Regions from separate parts of the Homo sapiens genome. Here region 1 is linked to region 2. Evidence: fine-mapped expression QTL. A gene starts in region 2. The other region holds a variant in brackets. All regions are shown on one strand. Distances are from middle to middle. Region 1 overlaps LOC105369468 (a long non-coding RNA gene). Region 2 holds the start of CASP1 (caspase 1).

Region 1 (5,387 bases), 150 kb after region 2:
ATTGTCTATAAAGTTAAATAGCATAGTGTAGCATGTATCTCTCTAGTGATCCTTCTGAATTTCAAGGTTGTCAACCATTACCCTGGACTAAAATTAAGAACAAAAGAAAAGTCTATATGCCGAGGTCTGGGAACTGAAGCCGTTCTGCCTCTAGGGAACTCTCTGGCCTAACCATGGTGCTGATATGAATAAAAGATTTATACTATTAAACATATATAACATAATAAATAATTATTTTTAGGTGAAAAGTGAAAAAGATATTGGATCAACATCTTAGAGACCAATTAAATTTTGAAATCAACCTGATAGTTCCATAAATATATTTTTGATTCTGGACCCAGTCTAAAAATTAAAAGAAGATAAAGAGCTAATTCTTTTCAATGCCTTAAATTTTGTCTTAACCTTTTCTAGAACTGGAGATGCATATTGTTATAGAACAGATTCATTTTTTTATCTCATTCCCCAGCATACGTTAATAAATATTTATTAATATATTATTTTCATACATGTCTAAAACAATATTAATTGTAACGGAATGGAAATTAGCTCTGCATATAAATAAAATTTTCTAGTATAATCTGGATATCTGATCAATATTTTGTCTCTCTACTGATCTCTCTATCTGAAATATATTTTTAAGCTTTTAGCCATAAAATGTTCTATCTGGTTGCACAGGCTTACAAGTATGTTTTTTTTAAAATAACTTTGCCTTAGACACAGTTCTATCATTTCAACCATTTGCTGCACCCATATACATAAGAATATTTTTCTGTTCAGATTAAACTAATAAAACTAAAAAGTGATATAAATACCATATGGTACACTCAGTGACATGCATGGTATTTTTAAAGGAAGGGATATGACACTTTGGGGGATTCCTCTTATGACTTCTAAAGATTATTCTAATGGTGTAGATATAGAATCCTCTGGTCAATTGGATAAATGCCAAGCATTTAAACTCTGCTTGCTAATATTTACATAGCTACCTTTCAGCCAGCGGGCCACTTGCTTTCCTTTTATGTATTGAGAACTAGAGCTGCCCTGTGTTCCCCTGAAATTGCGGAATAAACTTATTAAAATGAATGATAATGCATTCGCTGGTAAATTTCACAAAGTGTGAAGGACACAAATATATGAACAAAATAAAATTATGTATTATTGAGAAATGGTTTATATACTTCCAGAGATATATTGCTCCTGTACTTATGTAGAAGTAGAAATAAAGATTAGCTCTTTAACATATTAATTGATGTTTCCAGTTTGGGACCGTGAAACATCCCAGAAACAGCTGATTGCTTTTTTAAAAAAGTCCTCTGTCTTTGTTCAGCTAGTCCTACAATAGTAACTTACTCATAGTACACATTTATCATATGCTAGCAGTCTGTCCAGAATAACTTCGTTTGAAGAAAAGATAGGTCAAGTGCACATTCCAGGGAATATTTGCAAAATAATATGTATTTTCTTGCAAAATTTTAAACAATTAGCTCTTAAGGTCACTTTCATATCACCCAGCTCTGCTAGTTTTGTTCCCCTTCTAACATATTTTAAAAGTATGCTTGTTTTAAAAGTCAAATAAATAAGATCTATGATAAAAATACAAGATAATAGTTGTGACAAACTATTCTGAAGAAGTAAGTTTCTACTCTAGGTGCGGGCAAGATCCTTCTAATCAAAGAGGAGTTCTGTGTTTATCTCTTTTGAATAATTGTGCTTTAGTTTCTTCATTTATCTATCTATTATTACTGATTGCCTGGAAGTGTACAGAAAGTCATGTCAAGGACTAAAGCAAACTCCTCTCAAAATATTCTTCTTGAATAAACTAGATTTTAATATTAGTTAATATTTATGTGTACGATGTGTTAAGCATTTTAGTATGAGCTTGTTTCATGGCCAAAATAATACTGTGAGAGTATGAGATATCATGTCTTCATTGTAGAAATGGAAAAATTAATCTGTGAGCAAGGTTGTGCAGGTTTATTAAAGTTGAATAACCACCAATTGCTAGAGTGAGAATTAGAAATCAGGATTGTCGGCCGGGCGCGGTGGCTCACGCCTGTAATCCCAGCACTTTGGGAGGCCGAGGCGGGCGGATCACGAGGTCAGGAGATCGAGACCATCCCGGCTAAAACGGTGAAACCCCGTCTCTACTAAAAATACAAAAAATGAGCCGGGCGTAGTGGCGGGCGCCTGTAGTCCCAGCTACTCCGGAGGCTGAAGCAGGAGAATGGCGTGAACCCGGGAGGCGGAGCTTGCAGTGAGCCGAGATCCCGCCACTGCACTCCAGCCTGGGCGACAGAGCGAGACTCCGTCTCAAAAAAAAAAAAAAAAAAAAAAAAAAGAAATCAGGATTGTCTGAGTCCAGAGTCTATGATCTAAACCACTCATAAAGACTGCTTTTTTACACTTATATTTCCTTTCAATGGGTTATTAAAGTGAAAGCTAAGGTCTCACTAAACTATTGCTTAACAGATATTCTATTAAGATAATTCATAGCCTTTTACAAAGACAAGACTAAAATACGATTAGCAGAAAGTCTTCTGAACAACTTGGCCTTGAGCCAACCCAAGTTTCAGAGACAATGTGAATGATTCAGCCGGTGCCTTATAACTGAGATCCAGAAATAGCTCTGAATCCTACAAAGAACTAAAGAAGTATATTCTCTAGCAGACAATGAGCAATAATGAGCTTCTGATGAGCCATATATAAATTTTTAAAATATTACAATATTTTTAGCCTATTTTAAGATATAAACATGTTTCCAAAAATACAGATTGTGCTTCTGTTTATTGATTTATTATCATTTGGTGGTCTATTCAAAGATATTCACAGAGTCAATAAATTCTGATTATTTTTTCAAGTTAAAAAGCAAAGGGATTTTTTAGCAAAAACACAGCCTCCCAGAGTACAGGGAAATGATATTAAGATTACCTAATAGGGTTATTGAGGAAGTATGTGTTACAGAAACATGTACTTCTGCAATTCTTGAGCAAGAGCTACTGAAGCCAACCAACAAGAAACTCTTGTCAGGA[A/G]CCTGGCATTATGTGAACTTATCCAGTATGCTTCTTGGAGATCACTTGACTCTAAATATAAGTGACAAACATCACCTTGTGTTTTCTGAGCAGGACGGAAAGGTGCAAGCTAAAATGTGTTGTTATGATGCTAGTTGGCTTTGAAATTACTTTTCAAACAAAGATCGCTTTTGATGAGACCTAATCTGATATTCATGCACAGAAAGTGAAGATATAGCAAGTATACTTAAAGAAAACCATGACTTAGAAAGCAGAACAGTTATATTTATGTTTGTAGAGACTAGGAGAGATAATTATCTTAGAAGTGATTTAAATGCACAGAAAGTAAGTGCCCAATTTCCAAAGAAGAATTAGAGATCTCTAAAGCCTTTATTAGAAAATCCTTGTGTTCTTTTTATGAAATGTCAGTGAAATGAGAGATTGTCATGACGTTAAACCAGAATAAGAATTTAAGGAATGGAGAAAAGCAATGATGAAAAAAAGTATGTATCAACGTTTGATCTGAAATTTTCCTCTTCTTTGGAAAATGTCAAATTTTATGTGCATATTACTTGAGCTGAAATGTAAAATCTTAAGGTTTATGCTGAAGCTTCCTATGACTCTAATGAAAATTTAGAATGTGAATAAGAACTTTTTAGAAATACTTTCTATTGTTATAGCTTCAATAAATTCTAAAAATTGTTTTTACATAACATCCATGGCAAGAAAAAATGTCTATACTAATCATAACATTCTTCTTCCATACTTCAGTATGAGAATACAACCATATTATTTTCTAATATTAAGGTCTATTTATTGATCCTCAGCAGCATTATTACAGTTTTCTAATCTTTATTAAAATCACCCTGTGCACAAAAACTGTTCTGACATTTAACTAATTTCCAAACATCTTAAACCATTCAAATATAGTGTCCATTGAGTATAATTTGACTTTTACAAAACTCAGTTGAAAATTCCTTGTTTGCCTATTTGTTTTACTTGTTTACATTTGTTTTTCTATCATATGCTATATTTTCTCTATTGTGTAAACCAGGGAACAGAGTTTGCAGACTTTGGTTACCACACGCATACCTAGGATCCAACACAATAGCATTTCTGAATTTATACCAGAATCAATACACTAAAAAGTATCTAGTGCACAGTAGGCACTCAATAAATGCTTGTGAAAATGGAAAAATATTTACATATAAATTTAGCAGTTAAGGTAGAAACTTATTAATTAGTGAAGTTCTCAATTCTTCAGATAATTTTGGAAGGGTATTGTCAAGTGATTTATCCTGATTTTATTCTCCTTGCAATCATTTCTCCCTATTCTCCAGTTCTAGGATTCACATAATTTCTCTCTGACACAAATCTGTCCTTTTAGCTCATCACATATTTTTCAAATAAGTTGTAAATCATTTTACTTATTTTATTGTCTGTCAATTTATTTCTCTAGTAGTCTCAATTTTTTTACTTGGCCTCACTGTGCACATACATAACAGCACATTCTCAACCCCTATCCCTGCTTAAAAAAACTGGTTACAGTGTGATTTGGATTTGAAGCAGTGGATAATATACATGCAACCGAAACATTTTTCCTTTTCCTTCTAGCTACAGTAAAGTCAAGGTCTATACACCAAAGATAGAAAAAATGAGAAAAATAAATGGAAAGAATGAAGCAAAAAGAGAGCCATGAAAGATACAAAGAGATGTATTTAGAAAGTAGAAGGATCAAGACACTGTGTGCCTCAGAAAAAAAGAAGGTAAGCAGCAGTCGACTATATTTTTTAATTGAGATTTTCTTATCTAATTGGAATTATCCATGTAAGGAAACGAATCAGGAACTTGGTTGCCAGATGCAGAGAAGTAGATAAGATTTTCCTCTAGCTATATGCTTGTGCTTTTGGCCTGATTAGCAGCGGATTGAATGATGGCCCTCCTCAAAAGGTATGTTCATATTCTAATCCCTGAAAAATGTAAATGTGACCTTGTTTAGAAAAAATCTTCTTTGCAGATATAATTAAGCTAAAGATTTTGAGATGGAATAATTCAGAGGAGGAGAAGATATGAAGCAGAAGAGAAGAATCCCATGTGAAGAAGGGTACAATGATTGAAGTTACACAGGCGCAAGTTGAAAAGGCTGAAGCCATCAGAATGTGGAAGAGGTAAGGAAGGATTCTACCCTACAGCCTTCAAAGGGAGCATGACTTTGCTGACACCTTGATTTTGGACTTCTGGCCTTGAGAACTGTAATATAATAAATTTCTGTTGTTTTAAGCTATCAAGTTTATTGCTATTTGTTAAGAGAGCAGTAGGAAACTAACAGTATGTATATTCCTTCTTTAGTGACAGTTACGAAGTAAAAAAAAAACAAGA
Region 2 (5,311 bases):
AATTTGCATTCCTAGCCTCTACATTGCTTTCAGATATAAGTTTAAGAGTGCACTATGGGAATAGGGGTTCTTTAATAAAATAATAGAAGTAGAAATAGAGAGATGGTTCCAAATTTGAGAAAAGCCTGCATAAAACTTGGCCATGGGTTGAATGTTAGAGGTGCATGAGAAGGAAGGGTCCCATATGAGTTTCAAGTTCCTGGTTTGAACAACTGGTGACGGTGGCACCAATAACCAAGTTACACAAAACCGGAAGAGAAGCAGGGTGTGGAAGTATAGCATTTTCAGCTCTGGGAAAGTTTAGAATAAGGTGTCTCTGGGAGATGGGAGTGAATATTTCAGTAGGCTTAAATAATGAAGTTTGGTACTTATTTGGGTAATCAGGATTTGAGACACAGATTCAGAATTTTTAATATAAATGTGGATAATGAAGCTGTGGAAACAGTTTCTACAAAAGCAGAATAGATTACAAAAAGAAAATTATATGACCAATCTATGAGAATTCTCCATAGCCCATTTACCCACGTTTGATCCTACAAAATTAATGTCAAGGAAGATGTGGGTCAAAGAATGCTCTTCCTTTAAAAACAGCATTACCTGGAAAGGAAGAAAGTACTCCTTGAGAGTCTTGCATATTAAGGTAATTTCCAGATGTTTGATCTATGAAAAGATAAAGGGTATTGAAGTAGTCACTTATCATCTCTGGAAAACTTTACCCCAATCTGTAAAACACTCCCCACTAAAAATTTCTCCCATAACACTGACTGACTGACTGACATTAAATAATGTTAAAGATGTTCTTTAATTTAGAGAGTGGTGGGAGGTAGAAAATGAAAGAGGCATTGGTAGAAAAATACGTGTTTATTACACATAGATGAAAACAGAAACATCTGCAATGTCTGCTTAGACAGGCATAAGCTTTCCCTAACCCTTAGAACAGAAGGCTTTTGCTTTCAAAGAACATCTCCCTCTGAAGTGGCTTTAGGAAGTGCCACAGACATCAATGACTGGGAATCCACCAGAACTCTCATCCTCACCACGTGGTAGGTCCAAGTGGTCATGAGATTTGGCCAGCTCAGTTCCTGAGCCCTGTATTGGGCCTGAGGAGGGTTGCAAGTGGAGGATTTCCAGGCCTCACAGCATGACCCACAGCCTGGTAACAGGCAACCAGGTGATCTTACTCAAAGAAAATACAAGGAGGCAACTGGAGGAATGAGCCCATTAGAAATCTTCACTTTTCTATACGTTCAATGTGTTCTCTGAGTGTATCGCCATCATTGAAATATATTTTATTCTTTTGGGAGGGTAAAATTTTGGAGAAAAGTTATAAAAAGTATTTGATTATAAACCTTAAAGCTTCATGTGACTTTACAACTACATAAGTGCCTACAGACCCCTTGCACTCAGCAAAAATAAATCCACAGGTAAATATTTTGCCTTGCCAGGAACACTGGAAAACACAGCATGAAGCTTTTCAGATGGTTCTCAAGAGCTTCAGTAAAGGAGCTACCACATACTCAGAACAGGAAATGAGCTTTAATCAGAAGAGTGCCACTGAGGATTAAGGAAAAGAATCAAAGGAGAGTCAAGGGACATGCAATAGGGACCCTGCTACAGAAATATGGCCCTGAAGCCAGAAATAAGAAAGTTTTCTTCCAATTAACATGACTAGTAAAGAAATCAAATGTTAGGCACGAAGACAGGCCCTAGGTGAACTTGAGTGTAAGTCACTGACCCTTACCTGCTGAGAGTCCCAGCGTCCCTGCCAGGTAACTGTCTTCTTCACAAATGTATGTGATGCAAATTTGGCATGCCTGTGCCCCTTTCGGAATAACGGAGTCAATCAAAGCTCGGGTCTTATCCATAACTGTAGCATTTTCACGTTTTACTTTCTCCATCTCTTCCTTGTTCAGCACCCTTGTCTGTAATAATTCATCCAGTAAGCCATTTATTGTACCTTCACCCATGGAACGGATAAACAGCTTTCTCTTCTCCTTCAGGACCTTGTCTGTTTAGAGCACAAGGATTTCTCACATCATGAAAACAGCCTCATATTCCTCTCATGTAATCAACAGAAAGTGACCTCATTTAGATTTCATCAGTGAAATGTCCCCCTCCTCACAGTTGGGTAATCCCTCTTCTTACTGTATTGCTGTCCTACTTGTTTCCCTCAATAGTCTCCATACATGTGCATGGAGTGACCTGAAGACTGAGTTTACCATTTCCACATCAGTCCCTGGAAAGCAGAGATCATCCTCTTATGTCGCATGTTTATTTAACTCTGGTTAATAAAGTAATGAAGCAGAAATAGCCCATTTCATTTAGGAACCACTGCTGCTAGTACTCCTCCTGTGCCAATTCTGTACCCTCTGTCAGACTTTCAACATGTAAGTAAGAGTTTAATTAAGATTGCAAAATGACATCAGGCTTCCCCTAAAGCCTCAGTTCCTTTCTGGGCTTGCCTTTCCTTTCTAAAGTCTGCAAGAATCTTCTAGTTCCTTCTCTCCTCCCTCTCCCCCCTTTTCCTTGCTTCTACTCAAGTAAACTTCCACAGATGCTAATTATGGCTTCCAGAAGAGCCAGCCCCTTCCAAAACTCTTTCTTCCCAGGGACCTGTTCTTGGAACAGTAAAAGACTCACCGGCCATGGCTTTTCTCTCCTCCCTTCTTGTGTGACTGAAACTGAAAGTATGCTTCGCCTTCCTTTTTGGCAGGGCCTGTACATGTATTGGGAAATACTCACTGTGCATGCATATGCATGTCTTTATTTTTCTTCCCATTAAAGAATCAGAACTGTAGCCTGCATCAGGTAGTGTATCCATGGGAAATTTTCTTCACCAGCCCTTGGATAGATCAGGGTAGGAGGGGAATGGGGCTTGGAGAGTAAGACAGGATTGAAAAAGTATGTGTACAATTAAATTCACACAGTGAAGAGTTTCTCAATCATTAGAAAGCTTGACGGAGAAAAGTAACACAACCTTTGGAGTATGTGAACCACTGTTCCCCTGACCCCACCTCATAGCTCTTGGGAAAGTTGTGGGTAATGTATGTCCCTGTGAAACATTTTTGCTTTAAGAAATAGAAACATTTTTCACCAGAATTAAAGCTTTTCTTATTTAATGTCCTTCTTTTCACATTGCTTTTTTCTTTCTGTTTTTTTTTTTTTCTGATACAGGGTATCATTCTGTCGTGCAGGCCGGAATGCAGTTATTTGACCTTGGCTCACTGCAGCCTCCACTTCCCAGGCTCAGATGATTCTTCCAACTCAGCCTCCCGAGTAGCTGCAATTACTGGCACATGCCACCATGGCCAGCTAATATTTGTATCTCTTGTAAAGACAGGGTCTCCTTGTGTTTCCTAGGCTTGTCTTCAGCTCCCAGGCTCAAGCAATGTGCCCACCTTGGTCTCCCAAATTGCTAGGATTACAGGCATGAGCCACCCACCCATCCTGGAGGGTTTATTTTTGAGGGAAATTGCATTGTAGAGGCCCAGAGCATAGGCTCTGGAATGAGAATGTCGAACTTAGCATTTTAAACTTCCCTTCCTTGGCAAGATAATGAACTTCCCTATGCATTGGTTCCTCTGTATGTGAAATAATTTTATTAATAGTATGTACCTACACAGTTTTGAGCATTAAGTGAGAGAAAATGTGGAAAATGCATGGAACATAGCCTGGCAAATGGTAAGCAAATAATGAGTGATATTATTATAATTAATACAAATGTTTAAGGTTAGAAAAATAATCAAGGATGATTATTTGCAGATTATTTAGCTAAGTTTATCTTTTGTTAGAATCCTCAAGCAGTGCATCTAGTCATTCATTTAGCAAACATATACGGACGACATTGCTCTAGGTGCCAGAGGTTCAGTCAAAACATATCATGGTCCTTTCCCCTTTGGTCTCACATTCAAGAGGGAAAGACAAACATGAAGGCTGGTGATATGGTCTGTCTCTGTTTCCCTACTCAAATCTCACCTTGAATTGTAATAATCCTCATGTGTTATGGGAGGTATCTGGTGGGATGTAATTGAATCATGGGTGCTGTTTTTTTTCCATGCTGTTCTCTTGATAATGAATGTCTCATGAGATCCGATGGTTTTATAAAAGGGAATTCCTCTGCTCATACCCTCTTGCCTGCACCCATGTAAGACGTGTCCTTGCTCCTCTTTTGCCTTTTGCTATGATTCTGAGGCCTCCCCAGCCATGTGGAACTGTGAGTCTATTAAATATCTTTTTTGTTCTATATAATTACCCAGCCTTGAGTATGTCTTTATTAGCAGTGTGAGAAATGACTAATGCAGTAAATTTATACTGAGTAATGGAGTGCTGCTGTAAAGATCTCCAAAAATGTGGAAGCGATGTTGGAACTGGGTAAAATGCAGAGGTTGGAACAGTTCTTAGGGCTTAGAGAAAGATAGGAAAATAGAATCTGGAACTTTCTAGAGACTTGTTGAATGGCTTTGACTAAATGCTGCTCATCTCGAATGAAGATAGGAACTTGTTGGGAAGTGGAATAAAAGTGACTGTTGCTGCGTTTTAGTGAAGAGAGTGGTGGCATCTTGCCCCTGCCCTAGAGATCTGTGGAACTTTGAACTTGAGAGAGATGATTTAGGGCATCTGGCAGAAGAAATTTCTAAGCAGCAAAGCATTCCAGAAGTGATTTGGGTGCTGTTAAAAGCATTCATTTTTATGTATTTGCAAAGATATGGTTTGGAATTGGAACTTATGTTTAAAAGGGAAGCAGAGCATAAAAGTTTGAAACATTCGCAGCCAGATGATGTGCTGGGAAAGCAAAACCCACTTTCTAAGGAGAAATTCAAGCCAACTGTAGAAATTTGCAGAAGTAACGAGGAGCCAAATGTTAATCTCTAAGACATTAATCTCCAAGACAATGGGGAATATGTCTCCAGAGTATGTCAGAGACCTTCCAGGCAGCCCCTCCTATCACAGGACTGGAGACCTAAGAGGGAAAAAAATGTTTTCATGAGGTAAGCCGAGGGCCCTTCTGCTGTATGCAGCCTAAAGGCTTAGTGCCCTTCTTCCCGGGCCACTGAAGCCATGGCTAAAAGGGGCCAAGAAATAGCTTGGGCTGTGACTTCAAAGGGTGCAAGCCCCAAGCCTTGGCAGCTTCCATGTGGTGTGGAGCCTGTAGGGGCACAGAAGTCAAGAATTGAGGTTTGGGAACCTCTGTCTAGATTTCAGAGGATGTATGGAAATGCTTGTATGTCCAGGCAGAAGTTTGCTGCAGGGGTGGGACCCTCATGAAGAACTTCTACTAGGGCAATGCAGAAGGGAAATGTGGGGTGTGAGC

What was found. PIP is the estimated chance that this variant, and not a neighbour inherited with it, causes the effect.
Region 1: its variant is fine-mapped to the expression of CASP1 in whole blood (INTERVAL, PIP 0.98).

The regions. Positions count from the first base shown.
Region 1 is chr11:105,178,748-105,184,134 of GRCh38, forward strand. All of the region lies in intron 4 of LOC105369468 (a long non-coding RNA gene), which reads right to left. LOC105369469 (a long non-coding RNA gene) reads left to right here. Exons shown (of 5, transcript XR_007062872.1): 3 at 4,623-4,774; 4 at 5,026-5,176. Among named protein-coding and RNA genes, the nearest start is that of CARD18, 42 kb to the left of the region's middle. The variant A/G (reference allele first, on the strand shown) is at 3,030.
Region 2 is chr11:105,032,467-105,037,777 of GRCh38, forward strand. It overlaps CASP1 (caspase 1), which reads right to left and starts at 2,678. Exons shown (of 9, transcript NM_001257118.3): 1 at 2,641-2,678; 2 at 1,742-2,008; 3 at 598-660. The coding sequence starts at 2,647. LOC124902742 (a long non-coding RNA gene) reads left to right here. Exons shown (of 3, transcript XR_007062869.1): 3 at 3,175-3,215. RefSeq lists an enhancer at 2,757-2,806.